Linked DNA regions of Homo sapiens. The protein of the gene in region 1 interacts with the protein of each later gene in a pairwise test. Each region holds a gene or a part of one and is shown on either strand. Other genes may lie near its edges. The genes, in order: SPA17 and MYL6B.

The links.
Region 2: the proteins of SPA17 (region 1) and MYL6B interact in binary tests that used the Homo sapiens proteins (3 or more experiments, as listed by UniProt).

Annotation. Positions count from the first base shown.
Region 1 is NC_000011.10:124,680,132-124,683,949, forward strand, and holds part of SPA17 (sperm surface protein Sp17), read left to right. Parts: intron 1-1,257; coding exon 1,258-1,328; intron 1,329-3,818. UniProt on the Homo sapiens protein: Sperm surface zona pellucida binding protein. Helps to bind spermatozoa to the zona pellucida with high affinity. Might function in binding zona pellucida and carbohydrates.
Region 2 is NC_000012.12:56,151,281-56,155,729, forward strand, and holds the start of MYL6B (myosin light chain 6B), read left to right. Parts: upstream 1-1,351; intron 1,352-1,848; exon of another isoform or gene 1,849-2,528; coding exon of another isoform or gene 2,529-2,563; exon of another isoform or gene 2,564-2,592; 5' UTR 2,593-2,638; coding exon 2,639-2,812; intron 2,813-3,532; coding exon 3,533-3,560; intron 3,561-3,774; coding exon 3,775-3,918; intron 3,919-4,138; coding exon 4,139-4,312; intron 4,313-4,449. Other genes in the region: uncharacterized protein LOC124902942, read left to right, coding at 714-767, 1,126-1,351, 2,529-2,563. UniProt on the Homo sapiens protein: Regulatory light chain of myosin. Does not bind calcium.

The DNA.
Region 1 (3,818 bases):
TTGATCAAATTAGAGCATTACCATTTCACAACCCCTAAGGAAATGATCTAAGCAAGGATCATCAGGGGGCCGATAAAAATTATAAAAAGAGTAACCAGATATTATAAATTTTATGACAGAATTACACAGCACTACCAATCAAGTATACTTGCAGAAAAAAAATCAAACCGTCAAACCCGAATTAGATCAAACCTATACAGCTAGCTACCAGTTTACAGGAAATTCAAAGGCTGAAGAACTTGTTAAAAGCCACCATGGGGATAGTCAGAAACATCTGAACTGTGAAAAACTCCAAAGGGAAAATGACGTAATTTCATCAACAGATAAATTGCAAGGAAAGAATAGGGGCTGGGGGCTCTTCCTTTAAAAGAAATTTAAAAGACATACAAAGAGCTGTGTGTGCCCGTTTTCGGGGTCCTGATTTGAACCAACAAATAAATAGACAATGGAAGAAATTTGGATAGTTGACTGAATAGTTGAGGATATTGAGGAATTATTAATATTTTTAGTATTTTGAAGTATGATAATGGTGGTGTGGTTATATTTTAAAAGAGTATATATTGAGATACATTCTGAAATAAATAATTGTAGATAAAATAACAGGATGCAAGGGGTTGGGTTAAAAATAATCAGAAAAAAGTGCAGAAAAATAATCAGAAGAAAAGGTTATAAATAAAATAAATCATGGGTTGATCATTGAATCTAGACAGTATGCTCATGGGAGTTTGTTATCATATCTACTTTTTAAGTATTGAAATTTTTATAATATAAAGTTAAAGAAAAAAATTGTTTAAAAATAAATACCTCTGCTTGTCTGTGTCAACTGTCTACATAATATACTTCATTAAAAAAAATTTCTCCCATCTTTCACTTTTCCAGACTTTCTGACAACTTAGCATTTAGGTTTATACATTTTTCTGTGTTTACTAATACATGTTCTAAGTGTCTACATTTATATTTAAGTACTGGCATTTGTTCTTTTTCCCATTTTATTATAAATTTTATGAAGGCAGAAATTACGTTTTTAGTGCTTTTCTAAATATCCCCAAAGGCTCATCCAATGTTCAGTTGGTTATCATATGTTTAATAATCACTGGTAATGTCTGCAGTGCTACGCTATGCACAATGTCAATAAGATTTTGGACTGCCAGTAAAGAACCTGTAATTTGAAACAAGAAACTTACATTTGTGTCACTATTCTACATTTACCTTAATGAATTCAAATAAATCTGAAGTTCTTATATTTTTATTATTTAGAAACCAACTTTGATCCAGCAGAATGGGGGAGTAAGGTAGAAGACCGCTTCTATAACAATCATGCATTCGAGGTATGGTCCTTTGAAGCTGTTGGATTTGGCTATTTCTTCTCTCTGTCTACAGCTAGCAATTATTAGGCTATCCCCAGAATTGTGAGAATTATGTGAGGAGGCATCACAAATAACTTATTAAATCTTATTAAATTAAAATTTAATAAATCTTATTTTATTAAAAAGATTATTTATTAAAAAGATTTAATAAAAACTTATTAAATCTTATTAAAACTTATTAAATTAAAATTGTGCTGGGATTTTTTGCTGAGAATATTTTTCTAAAGTATCTGAGTCATGTACAGATATTTCACTTAAGTTTAATGATGAACAACAGGAAGAAGGTGCTTAAAAGTTATGAATAATTATTTCATCATTTATTCTTCAAATGTTTTCAGCATCACAGTGCTAAGCAATAGCAGGTACTCCACAAATAATTACTGAATTAATAGATGATATTTCGTAGACCAAAACACTATTAGTCCAATTATTTCATTATCATCGATATGATATTATTGATACAAAAGACCGGTTAGAATTAAAGGTGGTAATGGTGTAGTTTTCTCTATAAAGCTAGCTTTTTCAGAGTCTGAGCCTTTCTCTTTAGCAGCTTTACAAAGACAGCTTTCTCAACCAAGTTTCCTCAAAAAAATTAAGCCCTAAACCAAAGGCACTAATTGCATGTAAGGAATCAGTGTCCTGATTTGTATCTAGAATGGTTCTGGTTAGGTACCATCCTTGGGAGAATTGAGAAAAGAGCTTCTCAAAACATTCTCTGTGTTCCATGGTTCAGATAATGAATGCTGGTTGAGAAAGGCTGTGTGGAATCAGCATTATTGGCATCAACTGGAAACTTGATAGAAATTCAGAGTCTCACAGGAAACATGAAAAACAAGGAAGTATGACACCCCAGAATGAACACAACAGTTCTCCACTAATAGATCATAACCAGAATGAAATTCTTAAAGTCTCAGATAAGGAACTCAAAATACTGATTTTTAAATATGGTCAGTGAGGTGCAAGAGAAATCTGAAAACCAATACAAAGAACTCAGTGAAACAATTCAGGATATAAATGAAAAATTTTACAAGGTGATAGATTTTTATTTTTAAAAAAACCCTAACATAAATTCTGGAATTGAAGAATTTATTGAAGGAAATATAAAATACATTCAAAAGATTTAACAATAGACTAGACTAAGTGGAACAAAAAAATTTTAGAACTTGAATACAGGTCTGAAACAATCCAGTAAGACAAAAATAAAAAAGAATAAACAAAGCCTTTAAGACATTTGGGACAACATAAAGCAGCTGAATATTTGAATTATTGGTATCCGCAAGGACAAAAAGATCAGAAGGCTTAGAAAACCTATTTAATGCAATAATAGATGAAGACATCACAAGTCTAGCAAGAGATTTAAACATCCAGATATAGGCGGTGCAGTGATTCCCCAAATACAATGCAAAAAAAAAAAAAAAGTTTTCACCACAGCACATTAAAATCAAACTGTCTAAAGTCAAAGAGTGAATTCTAAAAACAGCAAGATGAGAACATCTCATCAACTGTGAGGGAAACCCGATCAGACTAATAACCGTACTTCTCAGCAGAAACCTGACAGGCCAGGAGAGAGTGGGATGATAATTCAAAGAGCTGGAAGAAAACAACTATCAGCCAGGAATTCTATATCCAGCAAAATTAACCTTCATAAATGAAAGAGAAATAAAGTATTTCCCAAACAAGCAAATGCCAAGGGCATTCGTCTGTACTAGGCTGGCCCTACAAGAAGTGTTCAAGGAAATCCTAAACTTGGAAGCAAAAAAATGGAAGTTAGCATCATGAAAACACAGGAAAGTATAAAACTCACTGTTAAAGCGACCACACAAAGGAGGAACAGAAATGAATCAAATGGGCCCACTACAGAATTCCACCAGTCCACAATGACAAACAGTAAGAGAAAAAGAAACAATGTATAAAATAACCAGAAAGCAATTAACAATAAGACAAAAGGAACAAAACTCCACATATCAATAATAACTTTAAACATATATGGATTAAATGCTCAACATAAAAGCTATAGACTGGCTGAATGGATTTCTTTAAAAAAAAAAAAAAAACATGATTCAACTATATGCTGCTAATAGGAAACTCACCTTACCTGTAAAAGCATTTAGACTGAAAGTAAAGAAGTGGAAAAAGATATTCCATGCCAACAGAAACCAAAAGCAAGCAGAAGTAGCTATAGTTACATTAGGTAAAACAGACTTTAAGTTAAAAACAGTAGAAAACAACAACAAACAAGTTTATTTTATAATGATAAAGGGATCAATTCAGTAAGAGGATATAACAATTGTAAATATATACACACCCAGCACTGGAGCAACCAGATTCATTAAAAAAAATTTCTATGTCTAAAGACAGAGGTAGACTGCAATACAATAATAGTGAGGGGCTTCAACACCCCACTCATAGCATTAGACAAATTATCTAAACAGAAAATCAACAAAGTAACTG
Region 2 (4,449 bases), on another chromosome or scaffold:
CATGTTGGCCAGGCTGGTCTCGAACTCCTGACCTCAGGTGACCCACCTGCCTCGCCTCCCAAAGTGCTGGGAGGTGTGAGCCACCAAGCCCGGCCCTATTTTACCAATAATAACACTTCGAATCCTCCGAAGAGCCCTATGAGGTAGGTACCATTATCATTATTTTACAGATGAGGAACTGAGGCCCAGGAGAGATAACTAAACCTGCTGAGGGTCACTAACTAGGACCTGGTAGAACCAGGATTTAAATCTGAGTAGGCTGTCTGAACCCCATCCACTTGAGCACCCTCTGAGATAATTTAGCCCCTTCACCGGTACGAGATCTATGGCGGCCTCCAGAAATGGTTGCTAACTTACTATTATCGTTATTTCTGTCGTACAATTCATTTCTACCTTTCCAATAAACTTTCCCCAACCAGTGAACCTCACTTACTGCCCATAAAGTTCACCTGTGCCTCACCACCCTGCCATCGCCCGAGTTTTCTGCTCTGATCTAATCCTCACACGCCTGTGCAGCACCAGCTTCCAACACCAGGTGCACCGCCAGGGTATTTACTGATCCAGTGAGTGAAGGTGGGCCCGGCCGGGCTGGTTCCCATCCTCTGATCAACGCCTAGGGGAACCAGTGAACTCCAATGCTGACCATAAGAGTTTCAGAAAGTAGGGCTGGAAAGCCCAGCCCTCCGCTCAGAGACCTGTGAAGATCGAGGAGGATGGCGCATATGCTGCCGCAGGATGGAAACCTCGATCAGAGAAGGCTGGGGCAGGTGACTGGGCTTAATTGCAAATTTTAACATTTACTTCAGCAACCAGCTCATTAAAAACAAACTACTCTGAGGCCTCTTTTTTTTCTACCAAACCGCGAGAGGAAGCAAAAGAGAGTGCAGCGGTTCTCCCCGGGGCCGTTAAGTGCTTCCAGCTATCTGACCTCCACGCTGCCTGCTGCAGCCTCAATCTTTCCCCAGGTTCTGAGTTCTTTCAGCAGTAGGTCCAGGAAAACAGCCGCCCCGCCCCCTCCACCTCCCGAGACTAGGAGCCCGCCAGGGTTAAGTAGGAGGGATACCCTAGGGGCCCCGCAGGGTTTTTAGGGTTGGGGTGGATTGGAAATTGTTCATTGCCTTTCAGTTCCGGGACATAAAGCGCGCTGGAAGGACACTGAGTCACCAACCACCGCCATGGGCCGGAAGCCACCGCCCTCGCGTCAACTGCAATCTAGAGCGCGGCGCATCCCGTGAGCCCGCGGGGAACTACGACTCCCGGCATGCTCCGCGGCCACCGGAATTAACCCTTCAGGGCTGGGGGCCGCGCTATGCCCCGCCCCCTCCCCAGCCCCAGACACGGACCCCGCAGGGTGAGTTTTTGGGGGCTGAGGAGGGCCATTTTCTTTAAGATTTAGTGGGGGTGCGTGAGTGTGTGTGTGTGTGTGTGTGTCGTGTGTGTGTGATGTATTTTGTAAAAATGGGACAATTTGCAGTCATGAGATTCAGACGCTGTTTTGCGAATGGGAGACCCAGCATCAACCCCGGGGCCTAAGTGGAATCACTGCTATCTTCCTCAGAATGCTACCTAAATCCTTTCCTAATTTACCCCAGAACAAAAGTAGCCTGCAATCCCTCCCCACTCCCAAACGCCCCCCAACTTGGACTCTCTCCCAGCGCCCCTGGCAAGGTTTGTGACCTGGCCCCTGAGTCAGGATTTTTATTATACCCCTGGTTGTGGGGTGAATACTCATGGAGCCATAGGAGCGCCCACATCCTCTTGGATTAGGGAATTTAAGCCGTCTCCCAGAGCCTGCCCTTCTCCTCAGGTGCCACCAAAGGGTCCCCACAGGTTCAGCAAGCACCCTACCTTTTGTTTGTCTTGAATGACCGTGGGCTTGTGGAAGGTTTCTTCCATGGAAGAATGGGTAGCAGATGTTAAACCTGATCTTTGCCCCCACTCCTGCCCCTAAAACAACACTGGGCACAGGAGACAATGAGGGATGTCATACTCCTGTTTTTATGACTATTCTTCCTTTATACTGTGAATAGTTCCAGTTCTTGGCTGGGTGGGGGCTCAGGAACTACAAGTATTAGGGATCATTAGACTCTAAGGTTAACTACCCCTGCTCTTTACAAAGCCATGGTCAGAAGGGAGTGGAGGGGCTGGGCAGATGGGCTTCTTGTTTTTGTCATTGCTCCCAGACCACACTTTAACTTGTTCCAGTTCACACAAGCCTCCCTGGCTGCTACCCCTCACCCCACCCTTCAAGAAGACTAAAGCTGCTGGATCACCTGCTTTGCCTCACCACCCCCATCTCAGTGCCACTGGCAAGCATCCTATCCTCACCCTGGAGGTTAACTACCTCATTCTGGGCAGTCTCTGGCTTCCTCCCCTACCCCTAAAGGAAACATTGTTCTTTTCTGGTCAGCCTTTGGGGATAAGGGGACAGAGGGAAGAAGACCTTGGGGCAGGAGTCCTGAACCATAGGAGGCCAGGGGAGTGAGGGCAGGCGGTTATATCTCTCCTCTACCTCATCTTTGCCACAGCCAACTGGCTCCCTGCCCCTGCCCCCGCCCCTTGACATCCCAGACTCCCTGGCTATTTAAACAGAGATGGGTGCCCCCATCCGCACACTGTCCTTTGGCCACCGGACATCATGCCTCCCAAGAAGGATGTTCCCGTGAAGAAACCAGCAGGGCCCTCCATCTCCAAACCTGCTGCTAAGCCAGCAGCAGCAGGGGCTCCTCCAGCCAAGACCAAAGCTGAGCCAGCTGTCCCCCAGGCCCCTCAGAAAACCCAGGAGCCTCCAGTCGATCTCTCCAAAGTGGTGGTGAGTCTCTGGAAAGTGAAGATAGAATTGGAGGGGGTGGTTTGAGGGTGGGATACAGCCTAGGGGATTAGGGGGTATCTAGAAGGTAGGGAATCAGTGAGCCCTGGAATGAGATTGGGGCTTTCCCTTAGTCCCCCATTTGGAAGCATCCAGTCTTATGACTCTGCTGTTGTCTTTGCTGTTCTCTCCCTCTAACCTATAATCATGTGTGTACAGCACATACACACTCACTTACCCCCTGCTGGAGGCAGGGACTCTTAGATGGGGAACATCTGGGTTCTGAGAACAGTTTCAAGGTGAAGGGAAGAGAGCTGTTGCCTGCCCCTGGCTGGTGGTTCAATTCAAAAGGCCTGCAGCTCTGAACTCCAGGAGGGGAGGCTGAAGAGGACAGACTTGTTAGACAATCACAGCTGGGGGCCAGGGGTAAATTTAGCCTTTGTTCAGCCCCCAGTTATGTGTGGGATGCAGGGCTCAGGGCAATGGAGGGAGGGAAACAGGTGGCATGGGATTAACCCTGTTCCCAGGAAACCCTCCCCACTGTAATTCCTCTTCTTGGGATTCTCCCAAGGCCCAGAGCTGGGAATGGGACTGAGGTGGCTGGGCTTCCAGCCTGGTCCCTTTGGGCCCCTCCTCAGAAGTGGCTGCCAGTTGGTTGGGAGGAGTGCGGGAGAGGGATTGAATAAACTCTCATCTCTCCCCACCTGCTTTTTTCTTCCACAGATCGAGTTTAACAAGGACCAGCTGGAGGGTGAGGAGAAGCTCATCTAAGGCCACTGTCCCATCCCCAATCCCCTGGTCAGATTCTCTTTCTATTCCCCTAACCCCAGTCCTGACCTTGAAACCTCCCATACTAGTCCTCTTTTCCTCCCTTGTTCTGTTCACATAGTTTCTGAAATTCCCTTCTGTCTGGGGGTGATGGGAACCCTAGTCAGTGTCTACACTGACCCTTCCTTATACTTTAGAGTTCAAGGAGGCCTTCGAGCTGTTTGACCGAGTGGGGGATGGCAAGATCCTGTACAGCCAGTGTGGGGACGTGATGAGGGCCCTGGGCCAGAACCCCACCAACGCCGAGGTGCTCAAGGTCCTGGGGAACCCCAAGAGTGATGGTGAGGGGACCCTTGGGAACAATTTGGGTTTTTAGTTTTCAAAAGTTGGATGTTGGTAACAAAAAGAATGAGGTGGATCTCAGGACTTCAAAAACTGTCAAACACAGAAGCAGGAAAATATCCTAAATGCTGAATAGGATGAAAGCATTGTGGTAGGGTTGGGAGCTGGGTCCTATGTAATACTACAATGACCTCTCCTTTACCTCTCTCCAACCTCCAGAGCTGAAGTCGCGGCGTGTGGACTTTGAGACTTTCCTGCCCATGCTCCAGGCAGTGGCCAAGAACCGAGGCCAAGGCACATATGAGGACTACTTGGAGGGGTTTCGTGTGTTTGACAAGGAGGGGAACGGCAAAGTCATGGGAGCAGAGCTCAGACATGTTCTCACCACCCTTGGTGAGGCAGGCAAGGGGGACCAGAACTCCTTTAGAGTGGAGAGGGGGATGGGGTGGGCCAGAAAGACTGGACAGATAAGCAGAGCTAGCAGGAGGCTTACTGTCCTGCAGGTTGTCGGCAGGAGACTGAGAAGGTCA